Linked DNA regions of Homo sapiens: region 2 is linked to region 1. Evidence: fine-mapped expression QTL. A gene starts in region 1. The other region holds a variant in brackets. All regions are shown on one strand. Distances are between the middles of the regions. Region 1 holds the start of PRSS33 (serine protease 33). Region 2 holds the start of PRSS21 (serine protease 21).

What was found. PIP is the estimated chance that this variant, and not a neighbour inherited with it, causes the effect.
Region 2: its variant is fine-mapped to the expression of PRSS33 in whole blood (TOPMed, PIP above 0.99).

Annotation. Positions count from the first base shown.
Region 1 is chr16:2,777,737-2,791,741 of GRCh38, forward strand. PRSS33 (serine protease 33) reads right to left here and starts at 9,824. Exons shown (of 7, transcript NM_152891.3): 1 at 9,797-9,824; 2 at 8,766-8,868; 3 at 8,353-8,385; 4 at 8,063-8,225; 5 at 7,639-7,910; 6 at 7,266-7,435; 7 at 6,217-7,066. The coding sequence starts at 8,811. The coding sequence ends at 6,908. RefSeq lists enhancers at 522-1,456, 1,457-2,390.
Region 2 is chr16:2,810,988-2,825,132 of GRCh38, forward strand. PRSS21 (serine protease 21) reads left to right here and starts at 6,250. Exons shown (of 6, transcript NM_006799.4): 1 at 6,250-6,345; 2 at 6,443-6,469; 3 at 6,814-6,979; 4 at 7,690-7,982; 5 at 9,968-10,122; 6 at 10,379-10,732. The coding sequence starts at 6,282. The coding sequence ends at 10,618. It also overlaps the pseudogene EIF1P4. RefSeq lists enhancers at 349-1,079, 1,080-1,809, 3,952-4,452, 9,045-9,546, 9,547-10,046 and silencers at 6,118-6,397, 6,508-6,567. The variant G/A (reference allele first, on the strand shown) is at 9,962.

The sequences.
Region 1 (14,005 bases):
CGGGCGAACTCCTTGGGCTAGAAGAGGAGGCACGGGAGCGGTTGGCGACCGCTCTTCGCAGGAGGAGGGAAGGGGCAGCTCCTTGCCCCAGGAGCCCTGGGCGCCTGTCCGCCTTCCTGCTTGGCTGCATTTCGGCTCTGAAAAGGCCTAGAGACTTGATTCTCCTGGCTGGCCGCTCTTTCCACCAAGGCCCTGTTTCCTGAATGCTGGACACTATCCTGCATCGCCCCAAGTTACATTTACATGAGAGTGAGGGCCCCCCACTTGACCTCTCCCTTGCAGAGACACCCCAGGCTGGGTCGTGCTGGGCGGGTGTCGGAGGCGGCGTTGGAGAGATGAGCCAGAGGGTGGCCCTGGACGCCAAACCGCCCTGCAGTCCTCCGAGCTGCGCTTTGAGGGCTGTTGAGAGAGGGGTGGAAGGTGGAGGTGCGATTTTTGCCTCGGCATCTAGAGAGGCGAAGGAGCAGCCCTGGGCTCCGCTGCTGACTGTGGCCATGGGCCGTTAACCTCATCAAAGCCCAGTTTCCTCCTGTTGTAGATGGGAGAGGAACAGTTTTTGAACTGCGTAGAACCTCGGCAAGTCTTAGCGCTGCATTTGTGTTTTCTAAGCTGTAATTCTAGTTATTGCTACTTTTGACTTGTGGAATGTGGCTCCTCCCTGGGGAGTCCTCCAAAGTCCCTTCCCTCGTGTGACTTCCTTCACTGCGGTTCACTGCAGCCCCTACCCCCGCTCCCAGGGTCCTCAGCATCGCAGTCCCTGCAGAACCTGTCTCTTCTTCATGACGTGAGTCATGAGGCATTGGACAGGTAATTGCTGGGAAGAGCTCTTGGCCAGGCTAAAATTTCTTTCTCAGTCGCAGTGTCTGGCTGGGGGCGGTGGCTCACGCCTGTAATCCCAGCACTTTGGGAGGCTGAAGGGGGTGGATCACTTGAGCCCAGAAGTTCAAGACCAGCTTGGCCAACAAGGTGAAACCCTGTCTGTACTAAAAATACAAACAAAATTAGGTGGGCACGGTGGCGCACGCCTGTGGTCCCAGCTGCTCGAGAGGCTGAGCCAGGAGGATTGCTTGAACCCGGAGGCGCAGGTTGCAGTGCGCCGAGATCGCGCCACTGCACATCGCCTGGCGACAGAGTGAGACTCTGTCTCCAATTAATTAATCCCAGTGTCTTTACCTACATAGAACTGGCAACTTTAAATCCTGTGCTTCTGTGGAGGGAGAGCGAAGGAAGAGTGTGGACAGTGGGGGCCAGGAAGTTCTCAGGTAGCCCAGCAGGCCACGCAGAAGTCAAGGGGTGTGTAGGTACAGGAGGGGCCGTCTCCACAGGGAGACGCCTGGATCCATACTCCATCCAGGCTTCATCTGCAGAGACCAGGGGTGGACACCTCGTTTGTGGGGGCCGTCACAGCTGATGCCCCAGCTCAGGATGTCCACCAGAAACCAGGAGTCACCATCCTCTTAAGGGTGGTGCCTGTCCTCCAGAGAGCATATCACTGGGTTCAAACCCCAGCTCCTACCGGCAAAGCCCGGGGCCTCCACCTGGGTGTTCCCATCCATGAAGCGGGGATACACAGTGTGGAGCCCTTGGGAGGTTGGGGAGTGTGCCTGCCCTCACCGCGCATCAGCTCATAAATACAACAACAGTTGCCTTCACGTGCTGATGCTCAGTGAGCAGTGGCGCAGTTCCCCAGCTGGCGCAGTCAGTGGTGTCTGTCTGCTGTCAGAGGTCACCTGGACCCAGCACGAGTCCTTGCCCCTAGAGGGAGTCTCCACACACCCCACGACGCTGTCCTCCCTGTGGGATAACTACACGAGGAGATGGCAGGCCATCGTATCATTCAGTGCAGCGATACCTCCTGTGGTGGGAATGGGGTCAGGAGGGATTTTCCCGGAGCAGGGCCACTCGCTGGCCTAGCCTGGGGTCTCCACTTTTGGAAGTGTGGTCTTGTGGGGTCCAGGTTCTCCTTAAGGGCCTTTACAAGGAATGGGAGCGTCCAGTGGTGGAGAGGAGCTGGCTGGCTGCGCCTGCTACCCACACGGGAATGTCCTCCTGGGCTCCTCTCTTCAACTGGCCTTCACCTCTCCGCCTCACAGATTTCACTCGGAGAATCCGCCTTGCAGCCTGTCTTCTGCTCCCTCCCATCTACCTTTTGTTTTTTTTTGAGACGGAGTCTTACCCTGTCTCCCAGGCTGGAGTGCAATGGCGTGATCTTGGCTCACTGCAGCCTCTGCCTCCTGGATTCTCCTGCCTCAGCCTCCCGAGTATCTGGGATTACAGGCATGCACCACCATGCCTGGCTGTTTTTTTGTATATTTAGTAGAGACGGGGTTTCACCACGTTGGCTAGGCTAGTCTCGAACCCCTGAGCTTGTGATCCACCTGCCTCAGCCTCCCAAAATGCTGAGATTACAGGCGTGAGCCACCACGCCCAGCGTCTGTCTACCTTTTATTCCCATCACTCCCCACCCCAGACAGGGTGTTGTGTTATGATGGGGAAGGCCCTTGTGTCTTTTGGGTGTGTTAGACCTGGGAAACAATCTGTCTTCTCCTTTCACGTGCCCCAAAGCAGGACTCCAATCTTCCCCGGGCCTTTCTGATTGGGAGTCTTAAGACCCTCCCCAGAGAGGGCCCCACCCTGTTCCCTGGGAAAGGAATGCTGACAAAACCCTACAGGACGGTTTGGAGACAGGGTTAGTTCAACTCGTGTGTGTCCCCAGAGGGTGACACCACAGGGATGAATGGGAGCTCCAGGCCCCTCCCCAGCACCTCAACCTGCACATTGCTTCATCTGGATCCTTTGTAACATCCTTTATAATAAACCAGTGAAGGTGTTTCTCTGAGTTCTGTGCATCGCTCTAACAAATTAATTGACCCCAAAGAGGAGAGTCATGGGAACGCTAACCTGAAGCCAGTCAGTCAGACGTTCCGGAGCCCAAACTTGCGATTGGGGAATGGGGAGGCAGTCCTGTGAGCCCCCACCTGTGGGACCTGAGGCTGGCGCTGGGCAGATAGTGTTGGAATTGAGTTGAGGACACCCTGCTGGTGTCCAGTGCTTAGTGTGTGGGGGAAAAAAACCCACAACTGTTGGTCACAGGAGTCTTCTGTGTTGATGATTGTGGTTTTGGTGTGAGAGTGTTAGGGACCTCTGCTTACCAGGCCTCTGGTTTAATAAAACAACCAGAGTGACTCCATCTTAAAATGTGTAGCTAAGCACTCACAAGGCATCTATAAGGTTCATGCTGTCTGAAAATAGCCACATTCTTTTTGTTTTTGAGACAGGGTCTCCTTCTGTCACCCAGACCAGAGTGCAGTAGCCTGATACTGGCTCAAATAATCCTCCCACCTCAGCCCCTGGAGTAACTGGGACTACAGGCATGCACCACCACATCCGGCTAATTTTTGTAGTTTTTGTAGAGATGGGGTTCCACCATGTTGCCCAGGCTGGTCTCAAACAGCTCAAGCAATCCTCCTGCCTCAGCCTCCCAAAGTGCTGGGACTACAGGCATGAGCCCCTACACCCAGTCTAAAATAGCCACATCTTAAGCTGGCCACCAATTAGGATTACAAAATGTTTATGGCCATACAGGACTTCTCCCAGAAGGCCCATAGAATGTCCACACGTTCTGAGAATGCAGCCCACTTTACTAAGATAGTGTCAGTAAGCAGGCTAAGACAGAGGATGCACGGTCACCGATGGCACCAATAGCCCCGACCTTTAGTGAGCACATATCTGCACGTTCCAGGTTTATTTACTGCTCCTTGTAGTTTCTCTCTCTCTCTCTTTTTTTTTTTTTTTTTTTTTGAGACAAAGTCTCACTCTGTTGCCCAGGCTGGAGTACAATGGTGTGATCTGGGCTCACTGCAACCTCCGCCTCCCGAGTTCAAGTGATTCTCCTGTCTCAGCTTCCTGAGTAGCTGGGATTACAGGTGCGTGCCACCACACCTGGCTAATTTTTGTATTTTTAGTAGAAACGGGATTTTACCATGTTGGCCAGCCTGGTCTCGAACTCCTGACCTCAGGTGATCCACCCTCCTCGGCTTCCCAAAGTGCTGGGATTACAGGCGTGAGCCACTGAGCCCGGCCTGTAGTTTCTTATAAGCAGAGACACTAACCAAAGACGTTGAGTTCTTCCTCCTGCTCTCTGAGCACGCCTGCTCTGTGATGGAGTCCTTTCTAATCAACTTGCTTCTCTCACTGTGCTCTGTGGCTCACCTTGAATTCCTTCCTGTGTGAGATCCAAGAACCCTCTCTTGGAACCCTGTCTTGGGGTCTGGATTGGGACCCTCTTTTCTGGCAACAAGAGTAGAGGAAAAACACAATTTGAGAGAGATTTTCCCTACACACAGATCTTGCTCTGTAGCCCAGGCTGGAGTGCAGTGGCGTGATCTTTATGGCAGCCTTGAAATCCTGAGTTCAGGCGATCCCACCTCACCCTCCCGAGTAACTGAGACTGCAGGCACGGGCCACCATGCCTGGCTAATGTAATTTTTTGTAGAGATGGGGGTTTCACTATGTTGCCCAGGCTGGTCTCGATTTTCTGGCTTCAAGCAATCATCCTGCCTTGGTCTACCAAAACACTGGGATTACAAGCATCAACCACTGTGCCTGGTCTACTTCTTTTGTTTTTGTGTTAATACGTAGTAGTTATTCACGACCATGCGTTAGTAATGTGCCTTATTTGTAAGAGTGTTTTATAGCTACTTTTGTCCCCATAAGGGATGTGACATAACTGTTAGGAGTGTGGGATTTGAGTTCAAATCTGTCTCCACTACTTACCAGCTGTGGGCCTGTGGCCAAGTTACCTAACCTCTCTGGGCCTGTTTCCCCTTCTGTGAGATGAGAAGAGTATCTCCTTCAAGGGCTCTGAGGTCTGCTGAGAGCATGTACATGCCTGGCACAGTGCACATACTCAGCGGGCATAACGACCACCTTGGCCGACATCTGGACCCCCAACAGCCACGGGAGTGCAGGTGTTATCAGTGCAGATTACGGAGAGGGAAGTAGGCCCCATCCTGTGGAGGTCAGTTGCACGGGGCTGACAAGAGCTGCCACTCGTCTGGCCCCACAGGCCATCATGCCGGGAACGGGCCAAGAGGACGGGTGCGGGGAGGCTGCCCTTTTGGGGGTGGGAGGGAGTGGAGAGAGTGGAGGACCTCTGCTTTTCCCAGAATCAGACCACCTGGGCTGGAGTCCCAGTCTACCAACCTTGCCGGCGGTGTGACTTTTGGGACTTGTTTTTCTCATCTGACAAATGGGGACAAGCCACCTCACGGAGCCTCCTGTGGGAATTCAATGAGCTGATGGAATAAAGCCCTCCCTCTGCACAGTGTCTGGTGAGGGCTTGACGAGGGGCCGTGATTTCTTCTCATTAATGATCCTCCCTTCCCTGCCCGGCTCCACTCCCTTCTGCCTCCTTAGCTGGGCCTGCAGCCTTTTGCAGGCTCGCCTGCCATAGCCATGCCCTGTCGTCCTGGGCACCTGGTGCCTGATGACCACACCAGTGGTGGCCAAGCTGTACTGCAGCATGGTCTGTTCTCCACCTGGGGGACAGAGAAGCCTTGAGCACCCTCCCTGCCCCACCTGGCCTGGCCCAGCCGTGACCATCTAGTACAGCCCACTTCCCTGGCTCCCCAGGAGGAAAGGGGAGGGAGGCGATGCTCAGGCCTGTGCCTGGACCTAAAGGGGCTGCGCCTTTGAAGTTTACCTTCCCTTATCTTCCCTTCCCTTCTGCTGATAGCCCCTGTCAGCTCCAGAGTAGGTTTTGAATTTTCCAGGTTTTGTTTCTTTTCCTTCTGCAGCTGTGGAAACTGACCTCTATCTATTGGAACGGGTGGTCCTGGCTCTGGAGACAAGGACATGGCAGAGAGGGGACAGGATGCCAGGCACCAGGCTGGAAGGGGACCCCAAGGGTGGGCAAGGACCTGCACGTGGGCTAGCTGTTGGCGTCTGGGTGCAGGTGTCAGTAGGGTGGCCTGGGCCCCAGGCTCACCCTGGGAGTGAATGGTGGCCAGACACAATGAGAACAGAATCTGGGCCTGCCCCGGGACTCCTGACCCCTCCTGGGCCGAGGGCCTGATACCAAGTGCCCAGCCTCTTGCAGTATGTGGGGAGGTGGCCGCGCTGGCCAGCCCACCTTTCCCACTGGGACACCTTCATCACAGTGGGGCAAAATCTATATTAGTTTTTATTGCTGTATAACAAGTCAGCACAAATGGAGCAGCTTAAAGCACACATTTATTAAGTCACAACTTTGTAGGTCAGGAGTGGCTCAGCTAGGTTCTCTGCTTAGGGTCTCTTTAGGTTGAAATGAAGGGATTGGCCGGCGGGGCTCTTATCTGGAGGCTGGGGAAGAACTTACTTCCCAGCTCCTTCAGGGTGCTGCCAGAATCCAGTGCCTTGCGGCTGTGGGTCTGAGGGTTCCGATTCCCTGCCGGCTGTCTCTCAGCTCTTAGAGGCCGCTCATGGCTGTGGTCCCCGTGTCCTCAAAGCCAGCTATGGAGGATCTCCCTGGTGTCAAATCTCTGTCATGCTGTGAATCTGACTTTCTCCAGAAAAAGATGGGCACACAGGCCAGATGGGCAGCAATTGGTTTGCCCATCACTGCGTGCCTTGCGCCCAGCCCTGGCCAGGGCCAAGAAAAGTAAATACAAGCCAGGAAGGGAGTGGGGAGTGTGACTCCCTGGGACTCATGGCAGATTCCTGGATGAGGGTTGGTGGAGTCAGAGCTGGTGATCCCCAAAGAGGAGAGGAGGCAGGAGGTGGTGGGTGGGGGGTGGGGTGGCCTTTAGCTTTTTTAGGCATCTTGGCCTCGAGGCAGAAGGGATGTGGGGTATAGGCAGGTGCCTGGATGAACCAGGAGGCTGAGGGACCCCAGCAGCTGGCTCCAGGTCAGCCTCACCGGCTAGCATTAGAAGCTGACGCGAGCCTGAATCCAGGGGCTATATGTGGCCACACTGGTGTAGACCCCTGGACGGTTGGGCAGGGCACAACCCTTGCCCCAGCTCACCACGCCCACCAGGACCCAGCTCCCAGACTGCAGGCAGGTCAGAGGTCCCCCAGAATCACCCTGCAGGAGAAAGAGGAGCCTAAGTCCCAGCCCTCCCAGGACTTCAGTTCTCAGGGTTCCAGACCCCTGGCGTGGTGCCTCTAGGTTGGAGGCCAGGATCCTGAGCCTGAGTTGGGATGTCCTGGGTCCTGGAGTTCAGGGAGGGAGGGTGCTGGGCACAGGGAGGGGACTCCGGAGGCTGGGGAGGCTGGGTGCACACCTGGCAGGCGTCCTTGTGGCCCTGGGGGTAGCCGGCACACAGACTCCCAGGCAGCACAATGCGCTCAGCCTGGGGCACGTCCGCGCCCACGTGGTAGAGGCCGTCGCAGGTGCGCGAGTCCAGCAGCGGCACCCTTACTCCTTGTAGCGGTCGCCACTCTGGGAGGGGCACTGGGGGAAGAGGAGGGACCTCTGAGAGGAAGGCGTGGAGCGGGGGCCAGTGGGAGAAGCTGAGCTCTGAGTGAGAGGAGGTTTTGTTCCCTAGAAGCCGCGCTGGGTCCTGGATTGGGGCAGTGAGGGGCTGGGATTTCCAGTCAGATGGAGGAGGACGTGGGGGCTCCCGGATGCCTCGGAGCCCCGCCCTCCTGCCTTACCTCCTGGGCGGAGGCTGCCCCAGCCGGTGACCCGGCATGGTGTGCCGGGCGGCGGGCGGGCGCCGGGCACGGGCAGGCAGACGGGTTGGACGCGAGCGCTCAGGGGCACCGGGCGACGCAGCTGCAGCAGTGCCAGGTCGCCGCGGGCCCCGTCCTCGGAGTAGTCCGGGGGCAGCAGCACCCGTCGCACGGGCACCGAGAGCGTGCGGGGCGAGGTGGAGCCCAGACGCAGCGCCCCCAGGCGCACGCGGTACTCAGCTGGCAGTGCCCTCCTGCAGGACAGGAGCGGGGGACTACTTCCAGCACCGGGTCCTCGACCCCCTCCAGCCCGCCTCGACCCCAACGCCTCTGCCAGGCCACGCCCGGTCCTCTGCGGGCCTTGCCTTCCTTGCACACCCCGCCTGGGCCCTCGGTGAGCGCTGACCTGGGGAAGCAGTGCGCCGCTGTCAGCACCCACTGGGGGGCGATGAGCGACCCCCCGCACACGTGTGCCCCACGATGCTGGATGCTCGCCTGCCACGGCCACTCTCCGTCCCGGCCATCCCGGCCCCCAACGATCCGACTGGACATGCGGGGCTGCCCGCAGGCTAGAAAAGGACCAGGGGCGGTGAGGGTTGGCTGAGGACCTGGGGCCTGGGAGGCAGGTGTTGGTGGGGAGACACGGGGCCGAGGTCCAGGAGGGGCTGACTCGGGTGGACTCCGAGGCTTCCTCACCTGCAGACTTCCTTCCCTGAGTCCCAGCAGCTCCTGGAGGAGGAAGCAGGGAAGGGACCAGATTATAGATTTGGTGTCAAATAACGGAGTTGGAGGGGAGGCCAGAGATGAGGAAGGAGGGTGAAACAATGTTGCCCTGACATTGCGCCAGGCTTTCGTGCCGTCTGTTATCTTATTTAACCCTCCCCAGAGCACTGTGAAGGTGCAGGGGGCAAGGGCGTATGAGCATGACACCGACAAGCACATCGAGGTGTGGTGAGGTCAAGGTCAGTGGCAGAGAGGATTGAGCCCTTGGAATCAAGATTAGAAAGCCCAAGAGTGCTCCAGGGAGCCCGGCCCAGGGAGCAGTGAGATGGGAGAACTGGGAGCCAAGGTGTCTGCGGCCCTCACCCCCAGTCCCTGTCCCCACTCACCCAGCACCAGAAGGAGCAGGACCTGGAGACAGGAAACCCCTCTCATTCTGTCTTCAAGGCTGGGCTGGGTAAGGGTGGCACTGCCTAGGGCTTGGACTCTGGTCTGGAGCCAGCAGGGAGAAGAGAGGAGAGTCCTGGCCCAGGGGCACCAATCCTCACACCAGCCCGTCACCCCCTCCGTGGTCCTTCTGTCTGTCCTCAGCTCCTGGTGGGTTCTGGACTTATCCTGGTGGCCCAGGCTGTATACCCTTCGTTCTGCCCAGGGCCCAGGTATGCAGCACCCACCACCCAGATATTTGGGCATCCTTGGTCTCGACAGAAGCCCTGGAGCCTAACCCCCCTCGGTCATCCTCACTCCCTCCCTCATCCCCCTCCCCCATCCTCACCCCCTCCCTCATCCTCACCCCCTCCCTCATCCTCACTCCCTCCTCCATCCTCACCCCCCTCCTCCTCACTCCCCTCCCTTATCCTCACCCCTTCCCTCATCCTCATCCCTCTCTCATCCTCACCCCCTCCCTCATCCTCACCTCCTCCTCTATCCTCACCCCGTCCTCCATCGTCACCCCTGCTCCTCCTCACTCCCCTCCCTCATCCTCACCCCCTCCCTCATCCTCACCTCTCATCCTCACCCCTCTCTCATCCTCACCCCTCCCTCATCCTCACCCCTCCTCTATCCTCACCCCCTCCTCCATCCTCAGCCCCCTCCTCCTCACTCCCCTCCCTCATCCTCACCCCCTCCCTCATCCTCACCCCTGTCTCATCCTCACCCCCTCCCTCATCCTTCACCCCCTCCCTCATCCTCACTCCTCTCTCATCACCCCTCCTCCATCCTTCACCCCCCCATCGTCACCCCCTCCCTCATCCTCACCCCCTCCTCTATCCTCACCCCCTTCCTCCTCACTCCCCTCCCTCATCTTCACCACTTCCCTCATCCTCACCCCCTCCCCCATCCTTCACCCCTCCTCGTCCTCACCCTCATCCTCACCCACTGGCTGCCCCTGCAGCCCCCACAGCCCCTGGCTTGCTCTCACCCTCACAGCCTGGCGCCTTCTGCTGACTGGGGTTGAGGGAGGGCCTGGGGGCTTAAAGTGCCAGGAGAGCGCGAGGCTCAGCCAAGGAGTAATGAACAGGGCCGGGGCGGGGCTGTGGCTTTACCGGACCAGCCTCAAACAAAGATGCTTTGAGCAGAGCTTCAGAGGTGGCAGGAAAGGGTCAATGGGTTTCTCAAAGGAAGCCTGCCTTGCGCCAAGGTACTAGAAGTGGGGGCTGGCGGAGAGCAGTGGTGCGGGTAGGTGCTGGGAGGGGTGGCAGTCAGGTGGGGAAGCTCTGCAGGATCCGGGGCAACTCCTCTCCAAACCTGACCTGGGCTCCCTGCAGAGCACACGTTGCTGGAGCTTCTGCGCTCCATTGTTCTGTCCAGAAATCCCATCTCAGACGGAAGTCCTGGCCAGACAGCTCCACCCAGAGACCCCAGCATGGCCAGCCCCCTTCCAGATCCGGGGTCTGGAGCAGCTGGAGGTGGAAAGGGACTGGTTCAAAGTTGGTGGCACTCCTTACTTGACCAGAGGCAGGGGGAGACTTGACCTTGGGGACCAGTGCAGTCTTTGGTTTGGGGTGGCCGAGACAGAGCAAGATGCTGGGGTCAGGGGACAGGAACTCCCCTTCTCTCGAGGCCCGTGGAGGACCGGGGCCCGGATGGTCCAGGGCCCTGTAGTTCCCTCTTGGGCTCATACACAGTGTTCGCTGCCTAGAAGTCTCTCAAGTCCCTCTCTGCATAGTGAACTCCTCTTATCCCTCAGCCTTCTGCTCTGCCACCTCCTCCTGCCTCCTTTGCAGCCCTGCCATAGTTGTACTTTTTTCCTTTTTTTTTTTTTTGTTTTTCTTTCTTTTTTTTTTTAAAGAGACAGGGTCTTGGCCAAGCATGGTGGCTCATGCCTGTAATCCCTGCATTTTGGGAAGCCGAGATGGGTGGCTCATTTGAGGTCAGGGGTTTGAGACGAGCCTGGCCAACATGGTGAAACCTCGTCTCTACTAAAAATACAAAAATTAGCCAGGCCTGATGGTGGGCGCCTGCAATCTCAGCTACTCGGGAGGCTGAGGCACAGGAATTGCTTGAACCCGGGAGGTGGAAGTTGCAGTGAGCCGAGATTATGCCACTGCACTCCAGCCTGGGCGACGCAGTGAGATTCTGTCTCAAAAAAAAATAAAAAGGGAGAGAGAGACAGGGTCTTGCTCTGTCACCCAGGCTGGAGTGCAGTGGTACAATCACAACTCCCTGCGTCCTTGACCTCTGGGCTCAAGTGATCCTGCCACCTCAGCTTCCCAAGTAGTTGGGACCACAGGTGCATGCCACAGCACCTAGCAATTTTTTTTTCCAGAGATGGGGTCTTGCAATGATGCCCAACTTGTTCTCGAACTCCTGGGCTCAAGAGATCCTCTTGCTGTAGTCTCCCAAAGTGCTGGGGTTATAGGCATGTGCCACCGAGGCCAGCCCATAGTTGTCCTTTGACAGGGACTTGAGGAGGTTTGATTTACATCCTCTTGTCTCCCCTCCAGCATCAGGGTCTGGGTCTGTGTCCCTGTAGGAGTCCGCTTGGGCTGCCATAAACAAAAACCACAGCCGAAGGGGCTTTCTTTTTTTTTTTCTGAGACAGAGTCTTGCTCTGTCTCCAGGCTGGAGTGCGGTGGCGTGATCTCGGCTCACTGCAACCTCCACCTCCCGGGTTCAAGCTATTCTCCTGCCTCAGCCTCCTGAGTAGCAGGGATTTACAGGTGCGCGCCATCACACCCGGCTAATTTTTTTTTTTTTTTTGTATTTTTAGTGGAGACGCGGTTTCACCTTGTTGGCCAGGATGGTCTTGATCTCTTGACCTCATGGTCCGCCCGCCTCGGCCTCCCAAAGTGCTGGGATTACAGGCGTGAACCACTGCGCCCGGCCGTGGGGGCTTAAACAACATAAATGTATTGCTCATGATTCTAGAGCCTGGGAATTCCAAGATCAAGGTGCCAGTAACATAGTTTTCATTCTAAGGCCACTTTTCTTGGCTTGTTGGGTGGCCTGCATCTTGCTGTGTGCTTCCGTGGCCTCTGTGTGCATGAGGGGAGGGAGAGAGACAGGTTGCACTCTTGTCACTTCTTATGAGTGACACAGAACGGCTGGGCTCCCACCTTCAAGCCTGGAGCCCCAGCCCTAAGTGAAAACATCTGACCCTGTTTTTCTGCCCAAATGATTGCCTTCTTGGCCCACCCCGCCCCCTAACCTGTACCGGTAAAAACCAGACCAGATGGCAGAAGAAAAGGAAGAAAAGAGCAACACAAGCAGCTGACCAGCAGGGATACAAGCTGCTGAGCCTTGGGGATACATGCGGCTGAGCTTTAGCTGTGGATAGATGCGGCTAACTTCAGATGGTGCGACTTCAGGGAAAGATCACCTTCCTTCCGCATCAATTCCCCATCCTGCTGACAGCCACTTTTATCACCCATTGAAATCCTCCGCATGCACTACCTTCCAAATAGCTCATGTGACCTGGTTCTTCCTGGACACTGAACAAGAACTCGGGTGTCAAAAAGGGCAGGTGCAGGATGCTGTCACCCTGACCCTTCACTGAACTGTTAATATTTAGCCATCCACGAACAACAGCTGAGTGAAACGAGCCACTCCAGTTCCTGCCCACGAAGGGGGTCACAGTCAAGGGAACAAATCCCGTCTCATAAGGACACGAATTCTATTGGATTAGGGTCCTACTCTTTTTTTTTTTTTTTTTTTAAGACAGGGTTTTGGTCTTGTTGCCCAGGCTGGAGTGCAGTGGCACAATCTCGGCTCACCGCAACCTCCGCCTCCCGGGTTCAAGTGATTCTTCTGCCTCAGCCTCCCGAGTAGCTGGGATTACAGGCATGCGCCACCACGCCCAGCTAATTTTGTACTTTTAGTAGAGACAAGGTTTCTCCATGTTGGTCAGGCTGGTCTTGAACTCCTGACCTCAGGCGATCCACCCGCCTTGGCCTCCCAAAGTGCCGGGATTATAGGCGTGAGCCACTGTGCCCAGCAGGGTCCTACTCTTGTGATCTCATTTAACCTTAATTACTTCCATAAGGGCAAATACAGTCACAACAGTGAGTAAGGCTTTGACATATGAATTTTGGAGGGGACACAAACATTTCAGTGCATAACATTCTCCAGTGGGCAGGACAGTGCCCAGCACAGAGCTGGCACTAAGGATTTGGGAATAAGTGGCCAAGGCTGAGCAGGGCAGCAGACTGGGGATGAGGCTGAGGGACACAGAGGAGGGGGCTGGTGGGGACACAGACCCAGCATCTGGATGCAACGTAGACAGAGGGTGGTCTTCAGGCCTGACCTCTGCTGTCCCCGTTTTAGGACCACCCTCAAGACCCGCTCTCTGCAACTGGGCTTTGGCGCCCCGGTCTCCAGCTCTGAGTCCTTGGGAGAGCTGTTGAAGCCTCACCTACCCTGCTTTCCTCATCTGCAAAATCCACCTGGTAGGTTGTGGTAAAGATTAATGGGGTTGACCATGCAGAGCTTGGCACAGTGACCAGCACTTGCCAAATACTAGGAAAGTCCTGCAAGAATAAAAGAAGTACACTCCCACCCTCCCTGAGCCTCCAGAATCTTCTGCTATACCAGGTCGGCTTGCCCTTAGAGGGCATAGTGGGGACAAGGCCAGGTGGGCAGTGTCCCTCTCTGTCATGGTTGGGTGCGGCTGGAGACCTGGACCAGTATGAGAGTGACAATGGACCCTCAGAATATGCAGCCATCCCGGGGGACTTGGCCAAGCACTGGGAGGGAAGCCAGCTAGGAGGATGGACTCCCTGTTCAGTGGGAGCTGGGTCTCTGCCTCTTCAGCGGGAGCTGTGTCTCTCCCTGTTCAGCGGGAGCTGGATCTCTGCCTGTTCAGCGGGAGCTGGGTCTCTGCCTGTTCAGCGGGAGCTGGGTCTCTGCCTGTTGCAATTTGGGGTGAAGGGGGAGGTTGGAGATCTGAGGACACCTGAGGGCTTGGGTTAAAGAAATGGATTCTCACGGCGAAATGGGCTTTTTTCAGGGGAGGGTCTGCAACTGGTTAAATATTGGACATCGGATCTTTGGGAGAGGAGGGAAAGAGCCCCCAGACCCAACCCCTGTCTCAGCTCCTATGTTGAGAAACTGAGGCACAGACCCTCAGGTAGACCCACCTCCCCTTCAGCACCACTCTTTTTTTTTCTTTTTTTTTTAGTGGTAAAAAACA
Region 2 (14,145 bases), 33 kb after region 1:
TGAGCCAATAGGGCTCAGTATAACTCAGGGTTCAGGGGCTCAGCGTAACTCAGGATTCAGGGGCTCAGCGTAACTCAGGATTCAGGGGCTCAGTGTAACTCAGGGTTCAGGGGCTCAGCGTAACTCAGGATTCAGGAGCTCAGCATAACTCACGGTTCAGGGGCTCAGCGTAACTCAGGGTTCAGGAGCTCAGCGTAACTCAGGGTTCAGGGGCTCAGCGTAACTCACGGTTCAGGGGCTCAGCATAACTCACGGTTCAGGGGCTCAGCGTAACTCAGGATTCAGGAGCTCAGCATAACTCACGGTTCAGGGGCTCAGCATAACTCACGGTTCAGGGGCTCAGCGTAACTCAGGATTCAGGAGCTCAGCATAACTCACGGTTCAGGGGCTCAGCGTAACTCACGGTTCAGGGGCTCAGCGTAACTCAGGGTTCAGGGGCTCAGCGTAACTCAGGATTCAGGAGCTCAGCGTAACTCAGGGTTCAGGGGCTCAAAGTAACTCACGGTTCAGGGGCTCAGCGTAACTCACGGTTCAGGGGCTCAGCGTAACTCAGGGTTCAAGGGCTGAGGCTCCATGCAGTAGTGACTCTGAACCCCGAGAAGGTAGGGCTTGGCAGTATCCCCGACTTCATGAAGCCAGATACACTGGCAGAGTGGCAGAGCACAGCTGTCATTTCAGTCCTGTTGGGGAGGGAGGTAGCAGGAAACAGCACATTCGAGGGGAAGGCAGGGAGCAGCGCAGGGAGACTATCTCTATCTCTAGGAGGCTAATCCAGGGAGGCAAGGTGCTGGAGCTGGCCCAGAGGGCGGTGTCTCAGCTGGAGATGGCCCACAGCAGGGTGTCTCAGCTTAGCCACTGCTGAGCCAATGTTTCCCTGGGATGCGAGCTACTACATCAGGTCAACCCCTGGATTCACAGCTGCTCAGCTCAGCCAGGGCAATGATCTCTTGGGGGAAGTGGGCTGCTTTAGCTTAGGCCTGGGGAATGAGACTATTCTGGGTAGCCCTGGCACCATTTCCTGGAATGCAGCACGCTTCTCCAACTTCAGCTCTGAGCAGCCAAGGTGCTGTTTTCCCGGGAGGCAGGTTGTGGCTTCAGCTCTGGCCTGAGCGGAGAAGGGGGAAGGTTAGGTGGAGCACCTCCACCACTGCTTGGCCCCAGGAGCAAGGGTGTGACCGCTGCTCACGGCTCAGTTTAGGGGTGTGAAGCCACCAGGCTGAGGTTGTTCAGTGGTGGATTAGTCTCAGGGATAAAGGGCAACTGTGGCTACTCAATCCCAGGGCAAGATATGCTCTGGCTGTAGTTCCAATTCACCGCTGGCGCAGTGCGGTAGCCACGTGACCACAGGAAATGGGCTCACTGTGGGCTCCTCTGCAGGGAGCTCAGCTGTGCGGCCTCAGTTAGCCCCCTTGCCTGGGCTTAGTGCCTGTGAGGACAGGGGACGCTAGTGGTGAGGGCTATAGGTGTCCAAGGTGCTGGTGGGGCTCCTGGGATCCCCTGCTTACCTCCTTGCCTCATTCCCAGCTGATCCTGGTTGAGGACTGGGGTGCAGGCCCAGTGTTTCCTTCTGTTCTTCATGCGGCCATCCTGAGTTTCTCTGCTCACCAGGTTTCTGTTACTCCTCTAAAGCACTCTGGTGCTCTTCCTCAGTTATTTTCATTAAAAGTTAATTGTTGGCCAGGCGCGGTGGCTCACACCTGTAATCCCAGCACTTTGGGAGGCCAAGGCGGGCAGATCATGAGGTCAAGAGATCGAGACCATCCTGGCCAACCTGGTGAAACTGTCTCTACTAAAAATACAAAAAAAAAAAAAAAAAAAAAAAAGGGGGCATGGTGGTAGGTGCCTGTAATCCCAGCTACTTGGGAGGCTGAGGCAGGAGAATTGCTTGAACCCGGGAGGCGGAGGTTGCAGTGAGTTGAGATCACGCCATTGCACTCCAGCCTGGGCAAAAAGAGCAAAACTCTGTCTCAAAAACAAAAACAAAAACAAAAACAAATATTGTTTATTCATTGTTCTGGCTGTCTTAGTGAGGGGAAGGAGGACAAGAGAACTAGGGGGGCCATGGATGGGTGGCCCGCACCTGTAATTCCAGCACTTTGAGAGACCAGGGCAGAAGGATCGCTGGAGGCCAGGAGTTCAAGACCAGCCTGGATAACATTTTGCTCTACAAAAAATTTAAAATAAAAATGGGCCGGGCGCGGTGGCTCATGCCTGTAATCCCAGCACTTTGGGAGGCCGAGGTGGGCGGATCACAAGGTCAGGAGTTCGAGACCAGCCTGGCCAACATAGTGAAACCCCGTCTCTACTAAAAATACAAAAATTAGCTGGACGTGGTGGCACACGCCTATAGTCCTAGCTACTCGGGAGGCTGAGGCAGGAGAATCACTTGAACTCGGGAGGCAGAGGCTGCAGCGAGCCGAGATCGCCCCACTGCACATTAGCCCGGGCGACAGTGAGACTTAGTCTCAAAAAAAAAAAAAATAAAATAAAATAAAAGTAAAAATAAAAACGTAGCTGGGTGTGGTGGCCCGCACCTGTGGTCCCAGCTACTTGGGAGGATGAGGTAAGAGGATTACATTGAGCCTGGGATGCTGAGGCTGCAGAGAGCCAAGATCTCACCACTGCCCTCCAGCCTGGCCAATAGAGGGAGACCCTGTCTCAAAAAATAAAATAAAATAAAATAAAGAAAAAAAGAAAAAGGAAGGAAATTGTGACACATACAGCGATATGGATGAGCCATGAAGACACTGTGCTCAGTGAAATAAGCCAGTCACAAAAAACGAACACCGTGTGATTTCACACATATGAAGTACTTAGAGCAGCCAAAAGCGTAGGGACAGAAAGCAAAACAGAAGTTGCCAGAGACTGACAGGGCGGGAGCAGAGCCTCACTTTAGTTTTGGCACCTGGCTCTGGTTGTGACGCCTGCACCGTCTCCCTGGAGGGGCTGGTCAGAGCTGGGCTCCCACTGACTGATGTGCCAAGATGAGGCCCCCACTGTACCTCTGCTCCCACCCTTCTGCACCACCCACCCAGCTCCCATCCCTCTGCACCACCCACCCAGCTCCCACCCCTCTGCACCACCCGTCCAGCATTCCTCTGACTTTCAGGGATAGCAGGGGCCAGGCACAGGGAGTGGGCAGCGGAGTCCCTCTCAGGAGGAGCCTCCTTCAGGGAGGTGGAGGTGGAAGAGGCCAAGCCCTTGGCCAGCACAGCTCTCAGAGGCAGGAGCTTGGAGGTGCCACAAAGCGGGCTGTGTTCTCGCGCTAGCCCAGCCTAAGGGCACCTTTCCATGTTTTGTTTTGTTTTGTTTTTTGTTTTTTTTTTTTTTTTAAACACGGACTCTCGCCCTCTCACCCAGGCTGGAGTGCAATGGTGCGATCTCGGCTCACCGCAACCTCTGCCTCCCAGGTTCAAATGATTCTCCTGCCTCAGCCTCCAGAGTAGCTGAGATTACAGGTGCCCACCACCATGCCCAGCTATTTTTTGTACTTTTAGTAGAGACAGGATTTCACCATGTTGGCCAGGCTGGTCTCGAACTCCTGAACTTGTGATCCATCCGCCTCGGCTCCCCAAAGTGCTGGGATTACAGGCTTGAGCCATGGCACCCGACCTGTCTTTCCATGTTTTGCTGGCAGTTCAGGGGCCTTCTTTCTAACTCCAGGCTGACAGGGTTTGGCGCCCAGAAGGAGAGTCACTTGGGCCAGGACTCCAGAAGCACCAGCTGAGGTTGAGGGGACTTGGTGGAAGGGATAGTTAGCAGCCTGGCCAGAGGGGCGCCAGGACTCACCCAAATGCACACTGGAGGGGATGTTCAGATGGCACGAGAACGGGGATCACACATGGTCGTTCACACACGTGCACTTGAAGATGCATGCACACACATACACCCAGACACACACACCCGCCCAGCCTCTCCTGCACGCAGGGGGCATGCACACACGAGGACGCTCCTCACCTGCATGCCTGACCTGGGGAAGAAGCCCACCTGGTGGGAGGCACCCTCCTCCCACCCTCCATCTGCCATGGCCCAAGTGCTGGCCCCGAGCCCGTGCCCAGGGAGACTCAACACAGGCCCTTTGTCCCTTGGGATCAGGGCTCCCAAGAGAGGGATTTACTGAGCATTTATTTCCTGCCCCGGGCACGCCCCAGTCCTCATTCTGCCAGGAGAAGGGAACAATGAGGCCTTCTCCTGCCCGCAGAGGTGGCTCCGGGCCGGCTGGCCCTTATGTGTCAGGAGTCGGGTTAGGACCACAAGTCCCTGTCCTCCCTGCCCTCCAGGTGTGGGGCTTGGGAAGACCCCTCTGTGACTCTGCAGCCTGAGGCACAGCAGACAAGAGAGTCTCCATCTGCAGCCCATGCAGCAGCCAGGGCCTCCCTGCAGCCCCCGGGCCAGGCTTGGCCTCTGCGGGAAGCCCCCAGCCTCACTGGAGGCAAGAACCTGAGTCCCTGGCTCAGATCTCCGGGTAGGACTGGCCTGACTGAGACCCTGGGCAAAACCAGGAGCTGACACCTCCTAGGGGCCTCAGCGGATCCCTGGGACTCAGGAACCAGAGGGAACGTCCTGCTGGCTGGGAGAGGGGCAGGATCAGAAGCCCAGGGACCTTTGCCCCAACCCAGCAGGCCAAGGCCAGGCTGTGCATGTGACTTGTCCTTGAGCAGCTGCTGCTGGGGAAGGAGGCCCTGAGGGAAGGCACCGCAGCCTTGTGCTCCTGAAACCCGAAGCTCCCACACACCCGCTGCGCCCTCATTGAGTTCCCGTTGGTACCATGCTCTGTGCTAAGCATTTTATCTGTACTTTCCCCAAAGAAACTTAATACTTTTATTGGAAAACCAGAACGCCTAACCACACATTTTGCCTAATCTTTCATGTAATTAACCTTCCACTAGTGCAAGTGTTGAAAGTAGAATACGCTATTCCCAAGTTTCAAGTTGAGGGAGGCGGGATTCCCAGGTTCTGGTTGTACATTCCCATTTTCACTGATCTGTTCAGTGGTCAATGGATTCTTGGGTTGCTTTCATGTCAGCTACTGTGAATAATCCTGCTATGAACATGGGTATACAAATATCTCTTGAAGGCTGGGTGGGGTGGCTCACACCTTCACCCTGGCACTTTGGGAGGCCGCAGAGGGCAGATCACCTGAGGTCAGAAGTTCAAGACCAGCCTGGCCAACATGGCGAAACCCCATCTCTACTAAAAATACAAAAATTAGCTAAGCATGGTGGCAGGTGCCTCTAATCCCAGCTACTCTGGAGGCTGAGACAGGAGAATCACTTGAACCCAGGAGGCAGATGTTGCAGTGAGCCAAGATCGCACCACTGCACTCCAGCCTGAGCGATGGAGCAAGACTCCATCTCAAAAACAAACAAAACTAAATCCCCCCAAAAAACCAAAAACAAATATCTCTTGAAGACCTTCCTTTCAGTTCTTTTGGGTGTATGCTCAGAAGTGGAATTGCAGCTGGGCGCGGTGGCTCATGCCTGTAATCCCAGCACTTTGAGAGGCCGAGGTGGGCGGATTACCTGAGGTCAGGAGTTGGAGACCAGCCTGGTTAACATGGCGAAACCCCGTCTGTACTAAAAATACAAAAATGAGCCAGGTGTGCTGGCGCGCGCCTGTAACCCCAGCTACTTGGGAGGCTGAGGCAGGAGAATCGCTTGAACCCAGGAGGTGGAGGTTGCAGTGAGCTGGGATCACGCCAATGCACTCCAGCCTGGGCGACAAGAGCGAAACTCCATCTCAAAAAAAAAAAAAATTGTTCCAGAGAAGTGAAGAGAGCCCAGCGGGAGCCCGCAGTGGGGACAGCCTGGGCAGAGACTTGGGGAGATCCCCATTCTGGGTGGAACGGGCCGAGGACCACTGTTTTCCCAAGAAGGTCCCATGAAGGAGCAGCCATGCCTCTAGGCCCCACCCGGCCTTCAGGGGGTCCCCAGGCTTTAAGGGGACTCCTGGCTCAGGGCCAGGCCCTTGGTGCTGGAGGAGGTTGTAGGTGGAGGACGGGGTCACCAAGAGGGCAGCCGGGACCCCTGGGCTGCAGACAAGAAAGGGACTGTGGGGTCCACCGGGTCTGGGCCACATCAAGAAGTGTGGTTGAAGACCCGCCCCTAGGGGCTGAAAGCCAGGGCGCTGCCAGGCATGAGAGGCCCCAAACAGCCCTTGGGCCCAGGAGGGTGAAGCTGGGAGTAGAGGGCAGAGCTCCCACCCCGCCCCGCCCCCAGGGGGCGCCCCGGGCCCGGCGCGAGAGGAGGCAGAGGGGGCGTCAGGCCGCGGGAGAGGAGGCCATGGGCGCGCGCGGGGCGCTGCTGCTGGCGCTGCTGCTGGCTCGGGCTGGACTCAGGAAGCCGGGTGAGCTCGGGGCGCTGCTGGCGGGATGGGGAGGCGGGGGAGCGGTGGGGAGGACGGGAGGTGGAGGCCGCGGGGAGTCACTTCTTGTCTCCCGCAGAGTCGCAGGAGGCGGCGCCGTTATCAGGTAGGGCGCCCAGGACGCGCGATTCCTGCCAGGGCCGTTGGGCCGAGGTGGACGGGGGGCGGTGAGGGGGTAGAGGGGGGCCTTTACTGCTCTCTCGCCCCCGCCCCCGGGATCGAGAACTCTGTTGGCGTGGAAAGTAACTAACGGACGCTGGAGGGGGATGGGCGGGCCCTGCAGAGCACGTGGGAGGATCTCCAGTGTCACCTACTTCCTGCTGCACACACGCGAGGGGACCCTGGGTGGGCAAAAACGTGCTTTCCCGGACGGGGTTGAAGGGGAGAAAGGGAGAGGTCGGGCTTGGGGGGCTGCCTCCCGCGGCTCAGCAGTTCCTCTGACCATCCGAGGACCATGCGGCCGACGGGTCATCACGTCGCGCATCGTGGGTGGAGAGGACGCCGAACTCGGGCGTTGGCCGTGGCAGGGGAGCCTGCGCCTGTGGGATTCCCACGTATGCGGAGTGAGCCTGCTCAGCCACCGCTGGGCACTCACGGCGGCGCACTGCTTTGAAACGTGAGTGGGGGTGCGAACGGAGGGGTGCGGGGACGGGCAGGAACAGGGCTGGAGGGAGTGCCACCGAACTTTACCTCTGGTCTGATGCCAGACTTGGGCGTGAAAGTTGTGCGTGGATGCGGCCTGGTGTTCTCCTGAGCCCCAGGCTGTGCTGCAGCCGGTTACACCCACTCCAGTTCCCTTTGGGTCTCCTGGAGGGAACCCTGTTCAGGTTATTCCAGAATGTTCTTCCAGAACATTTCCACACACTTTTGGGTATTCTCTCCCTTTTTCTTTCAACCCAAAGTTCACCACTGACCATCCCACCCTCATCCCCCCTCCTGGTGGACGGTGCGGTACAGTGTGGGGCACTGAGCCAAGGCCAGCACCCCCGGGCCGCTGTGTGGACTCCATCCTGCCAATCCCACATTGGCGTGGTGCATCTCCCCATTCCTCCTTGGGCTGCATGGGGGTGCCCCTGGAGGCCTTGGCTCAATGCAAGGCTCCTTGGGACAGCTCTGGGAGGTGACAAGACCCCACCCTTCTGCTGCAGGAGCAGGTCCTAGGACTTTGGTTGTGGTCTGTCTGGGCTCCTTCATTTCTGCAGGGGACCCTGGGTGTTAGCAAGTAGCAGCAACACCACAGTTTCCCCTCCTGCACTGGACCCCAGTTGTGCTCAGGTAGCCAGCCCTCCATCCAGGGCCCCTGACTGCTCTCTTCTCTTCTGCCAGCTATAGTGACCTTAGTGATCCCTCCGGGTGGATGGTCCAGTTTGGCCAGCTGACTTCCATGCCATCCTTCTGGAGCCTGCAGGCCTACTACACCCGTTACTTCGTATCGAATATCTATCTGAGCCCTCGCTACCTGGGGAATTCACCCTATGACATTGCCTTGGTGAAGCTGTCTGCACCTGTCACCTACACTAAACACATCCAGCCCATCTGTCTCCAGGCCTCCACATTTGAGTTTGAGAACCGGACAGACTGCTGGGTGACTGGCTGGGGGTACATCAAAGAGGATGAGGGTGAGGCTGGGGACAGGCGGGTCAGGGAGGAACTGTCTTTGTTCACCTGTTCCCCTGCATAGGCACAATAGCCCCCTGCTTGGTCTGGGGGTGCAGGCTATGCCCCTCTTGCTTGCAGTCTCTCCTCACCTGCCAGGGCAGGGACCAAACACCCAGTTCTCTCCCTTCCAGGGGCTGTGGGGGCCAGAAGGAGAGTGTGAGAGGGAGGCCAGTTTGGCGCAGGCCTGTGGGTGGTGCGGTGGTGGAGGGGTTCTGGAGGGCTTGGCGACATAAACCTCATACTTGGATTTATTCCTGCATCTTTCCACCTCCCCCAGTGCTCACCAATGCCCCAGGCATCAGGCTCCTGGGCTGCCTCTCCATGCCTCCCACACCCACCCTAGCTCTGGCCGATTCTCCTGCAGCACTGAGCCCATTCCTCTCCCCAGAAACTTCCAAGCCATGCTCAACCGCAGCTCCCACGGAAACCCCTCTGGGGGTTCCTCTGGTGGGCCTGCCCTGGCACCTGCGTGTCCCCCAACACACATGCCCTGAAAGAAGTGGGCCCAGCATCCGGAGGAGCCCCGGCAGCCCCAGACTGGGCGTGTTCCCTGTATCAGGAATCCCTTCCCTCTGCTCCCCTGTCTGGCCCGTCCCTGCATCATCCCACAACAGTAGTAACAATAACAAACGTGGTTCCTTGAGCACACGCTGTGTGCCTGGCACTGTTCTAGACATGGGGGCCCAGCAGTGAGCCAGGCGCGGCCTCTCCTCCTGCTGGAGCTCACCTAGGAATGAAGTTGGTAACGTTCTTATACCCATCTTACAGATGAGAAAACTGAGAGGGTTATGGAAATTGCCAAGAACTAGTAAATGGAGAAGTCAGGGCCCCTTGCCTTAGAGAGGGTAAGGGATGTCCCCAAGTCACACCCCGGCAGTTGGGAGTGGGGAACTCAGCACTGGAGCCGCCTCCCTCTGGAGGAGGGATCCTTTGCCTTCCCTGAGAAGGACCCTTGCTGCAAACACGAGTGGATATGAGCCAGGGGCACGGCCAGGCTGCCTCTGCCACCCTCTCTCCCCAGCCCAGGGTAGACAGGTCACACCAACCCCAGGCTGTGCCTCAATTCACAGTGCCGGGGAGGCAGGGGACAGGCACTTCTGGAGCCCCCTGCCTGGTGTGCACCTTTGCTGTGCCCTGCGCGGGCTGGGAGGCCTTGGGCAAAGGTGTTCATCTTACAGTGCCTCAGTTTCCTCCCCTGTGAAATAGGGGAATGATGGTGCCACATCAGAGGCTAGTTCCCAGGTTGTTAGTCCCGAGGGCTTAGGAGAGGCCCCGCTGACGGGAAGCGCTGCCTGCAGGTTGGGTCTCATTGTCTTTTGTCATCCTCTGCAGGACAAGGTGCTGGCTGGCACTCTGAGGCAGGAATTGGACAGGTGTGGGCTCCTGTCAGGCTCTGAAACTTCCCCAGTGCCTTGCTGGGGGTCAGCGGGGCAATATCCCCCTGACTCTCCTTATCTGGGAGTAGGTCCTGATGACTGCCGCCTCCCAGGGGTGCTGGGGGTCCCTAAGAGTGCTGCAACAAGCTTGTGTCCAGGCCTGGAAAGCGCCCAGCTGCTACTGAGGCCAGGGCTGCAGCCAGGCTGCCCCTCCCCCAGGTCTGGCTTTGGATGCTCATCTGAACACCGTCTCAGCTGCCTTCGCCCCTCCCTCGGCTCCTTTTGGCTGAGGAATCTCTCCATGGCTGCAGGCAGGGCCATTGTTGCCATTCTACAGATAGGGAAAGTGCGGCTGGGGGAGCTCTGACAGCCTGTCCCTCCCCGGGGCCTTCTGTGATGCTGCTGAGGGCCTCTGTTGTGCTGGGGTCTGGGTTGGAGCTGGGGGTAATGGAGATGAACCTGCCAGGCACAGTGGGTGCCCCAGGGCCCCCACCCCCGCAGCCTATGCCATCCCTCCATAGAGGGGCCTCAGGTTGCTGTCTCTCTCCTTCCCACTATCGTCC[G/A]CACAGCACTGCCATCTCCCCACACCCTCCAGGAAGTTCAGGTCGCCATCATAAACAACTCTATGTGCAACCACCTCTTCCTCAAGTACAGTTTCCGCAAGGACATCTTTGGAGACATGGTTTGTGCTGGCAATGCCCAAGGCGGGAAGGATGCCTGCTTCGTGAGTGTCCTTGCCACCACTCCCAGCCCAGGAAAGCATCCTGTGTCCCTGTGCCTTATTTGACCCTCATGCCAACCCCGGGAGGTGGAGACTGTTGCCCCACTCTGCAGATGCAGAAACGGAGGCTTGGCTGCTGCCAGGGGGAGGAGGAGGATGTGCACCCAGTCTACCCAGCCCCATAGCCCTTCCCACTCTCAGCCCCTCCCCTGCCCCACTCACTCTGCCCCAGGCTGACCTCAGCCCCGCTGCTCCCCAGGGTGACTCAGGTGGACCCTTGGCCTGTAACAAGAATGGACTGTGGTATCAGATTGGAGTCGTGAGCTGGGGAGTGGGCTGTGGTCGGCCCAATCGGCCCGGTGTCTACACCAATATCAGCCACCACTTTGAGTGGATCCAGAAGCTGATGGCCCAGAGTGGCATGTCCCAGCCAGACCCCTCCTGGCCGCTACTCTTTTTCCCTCTTCTCTGGGCTCTCCCACTCCTGGGGCCGGTCTGAGCCTACCTGAGCCCATGCAGCCTGGGGCCACTGCCAAGTCAGGCCCTGGTTCTCTTCTGTCTTGTTTGGTAATAAACACATTCCAGTTGATGCCTTGCAGGGCATTCTTCAAAAGCAGTGGCTTCATGGACAGCTCATTCTCTCTTGTGCAGACAGCCTGTCTGTGCCCCTGGCTCACACCCACATCTGTTCTGCACCATAGAACCATCTGGTTATTTCGATCAGAAAGAGAATTGTGTGTTGCCCAGGCTGGTCTTGAACGCCTAGGGTGGTCTCGATCCTCCCGCCTCACCCTCCTGAGTAGCTGAAATTATAGACGCACATCATGCTCAGCAATGGAACAGGAGTAGTTCCAGGGTGCCAGGAGCTGGGAAGCCTGGATTGGGGGTGTGTGCATTGGAGGAAACAATCCTGACATCCCTCACCCCACAAGGATCCGGCACAGAAACGCCAGACATCCTGATCTTACTATGGTTCCCCCAAGGCTGACCTAGGACCAGGACATAGGTGCAGGTAGTTTATCTGGGAGGGGATTGCAGGAAATGGGGAAACCGAGGCAGGGAAGGAAGGAACACCAATGAGCTTACACAAACATAGAGGGTACCATTCTAGGCAACTGGGGTGCAATCCTGTGGGGGCCTCAGCGTTGGCCCACTGAGGACAAGGACACCACGGTGGGCGTTTCTCTCTTGACCACTCCCCCCACCATGTTGAGAGTAGTTCTGGGGCACGGGATGCCTCAGAGCTGGGGCAGCCCCGAGGTGAGGCTCTGAGCACCCAGAAAGTAGGCAATAATGGTTCCCCTTGTGGGACTCCAGCTGGCTCCAAGTTCGAAAATCATGGTCCTCCCTTAGCGATGTTTTTATTTTTTTATTTTTATTTTTGCAGTTTATTGCATAAAGGAATTACACTAGTTCAAGTTAAAAGCAGACCTCAAATGGTTAAATTAGACAAACTGTGAGGTTTTAAAACTTGTAACAAGGGAAAGAAGGGAAATTCTACTCATTACAGGGAAATCCTCACTTAAGTTTCAGTGAGCCACAAGTAGTTAAAACCCTTGAACCATCAGCAGATCGTCCTTAGCCAGTCCCACCTCTACAAGGAACTGGCATATGTTCTTGCGCTGGTCACCCTGTAGCTGAATGACTTCTCCATATTCTGGATGCTCAATTACCGTCCCATTGCAGGGAAATTTCCTCTTAAATGCCTTCACTAGTTGCTTTTTATTGTAATCCTTAGTGATCGCTTAGACAGTGCTAAGGGTTTTCCTGTCATTTCTCTGTTAAATCCTTGCATGGATGTATTCCTCAGTGCCTGCAGGGAGCAGGTCATCACTCTTACTTAAATCAGCAAAGGGGTGGAAGAGTGGAGATTCTGGACAGTGGACATACGAGATGACTCCTTTTCCTCAGTGGAAACGGGCAAAACTCGGGCCAAGGCGCCAACAGCCACAGATTTCCAGCCAGAAAAACAACACCCCAGAGATCCTGTAACATTACGAAGGCTTTGGAATGTCATATTTAAATTGTTTATAGATCAGTTTTATCATCTACCTGTAGACTATATTGGACCCTAAATTCTAAGTTCCTCCAATCCAGTTTTCTCCTACGGAATTATTAAAACTGGAAGCTGCTCTTTCATAAATGCCCTGCGAGCTAAAACAAAACAACTTAACATAAATATCAAGGGACAAGTATTGTGCCTGATGTGTGGACCGCACAGAGTTCACCAACCATCCAAGGCCATAACCAGAGACATTTTAACTGCAAAATTGCCGGCTTCATACTGCAGCTTTTCCCAAGACCATCAAAACGAGATTCCGTATCATGGTGGTCCACTTACCTCTCTTAATGCGCACCTTTCTCCCTTGACAGGATAATGTGTAATTAAAATTTTACAGCCAGTAACTGCTTTGGGTAACTTAACAGAACTGGACCTAAAAACATGCTTCACTCCACCTAGTGGGTAACTTTGGCGATATCGCTAACACAACTTGTTCAAATTGTACTAGTGGTCCCTTTTATAGAGTTGGCCCTGTTTTCTGCTTTATTTCAACCCAGTCATGAAATGCTACTTAATGGCTACAATAGCTTTCAGCCAGTTTGCCTGTCATCCTTTTTTTTTTTTTTTTTTTTTTTTGAGACAGAGTCTCACTCTGTCACCCAGGCTGGAGTGCAATGGCACGATCTCAGCTCACTGCAACCTCCGCCTCCCTGGTTCAAGCAATTATCCTGCCTCAGCCTCCTGAGTAGCTGGGAGTGCCATCATGCCCAGCTACTTTTGTAATTTTTAGTAGAGACGGGGTTTCACTATGTTGGCCAGGCTGGTCTCAAACTCCTGACCTCTCGATCCACCCGCCTCGGCCTCCCAAAGTGCTAGGATTACAGGCGTGAACCACCATACCTGGCCTAGTTTTTTGTTTGCTTTTCGTTTGTTTGTTTGTTTGCTTTTGTTTTTTTAAGAGATAGGGTCTCGCTTTGGCACCTAGACTGGAGCCAGTGCAGTGACGTGATCCTAGCTCACTGCAACTTTGAAGTCCTGGGCTCCTTCCACCTCAGTCTTCTGAGTAGCTGGGTCTACAGGCCCACACTACCACCACCAGCTAAGTTGTTTAAAGTTATTTTTTGTAGAGACAAGTTCTCACTTTGTTGTCCAGGCTGGTCTCACGTGGGCAGTTAGCCCCAGACCTCCTGCCAGATGCCCCAGCCCAGCCAGGTGGTCCGGAATCCATAAATATTTTTTAAACCTGTGAATATACACTTCGAGATTTGTGATTTCGTTGTATGCAAATTGTGCTTCAAACTGGGAAAAGCCCAACCCCCCAAAAGTCTAGTTAACGATACGCATGTGGAAGTCCCTGAGGGTAAGTGAACTGAGGTCTGCACCTGACGTCTGAGGAAAGAAGATGAACCAATGAGTGGACGGAGGGTCCGGGACATGGACAAATGCAGTGACACCCACACAGGAGAATGCTGAGGACTGGAGAGGCAGGGATTGCGTGGGTGTCACTGTCACCTTTTACTCTCCAGTATGTCTGAATTTGGGTGGTAAATGTAGGGGAAATGTCTGTTGACTTTGTCCTTGGAGGACAGCTCCCCAGGGCCCATCCTCAGCTTCTGCCATCTTGGTCCATCTGGATCGTCCATCCTCGAGTCTGGAAAATTCCAGGCCCTCCACATGGCTTGCTGTGGGGGCTGCAGTCAGGAACTGGCCTCCCGGACCAGCGACGCCCCCCACAGGGCTACTCCCTCTGCAGCCTCCCAGGGAGGACTCAACCACTCTTGGGAAGGAGATGAGCAACTGACTCAAACCAGTCTGAGGCTGTTCCAGTGCCTGACACCATCGAGGGCCTCGTCCGGGCCGGTCCTCATGTATTAGTCCATTCTCACGCTGCTAATAAAGACATACCTGAGATTGGGTATTTTAGAAAGGAAAGAGGTTTAATTGACTCACAGTTCAGCGTGGCTGGGGAGGCCTCAGGAAACTTACTATTAGGGCAGAAAGGGAAGCAAACACATCCTTCTTCA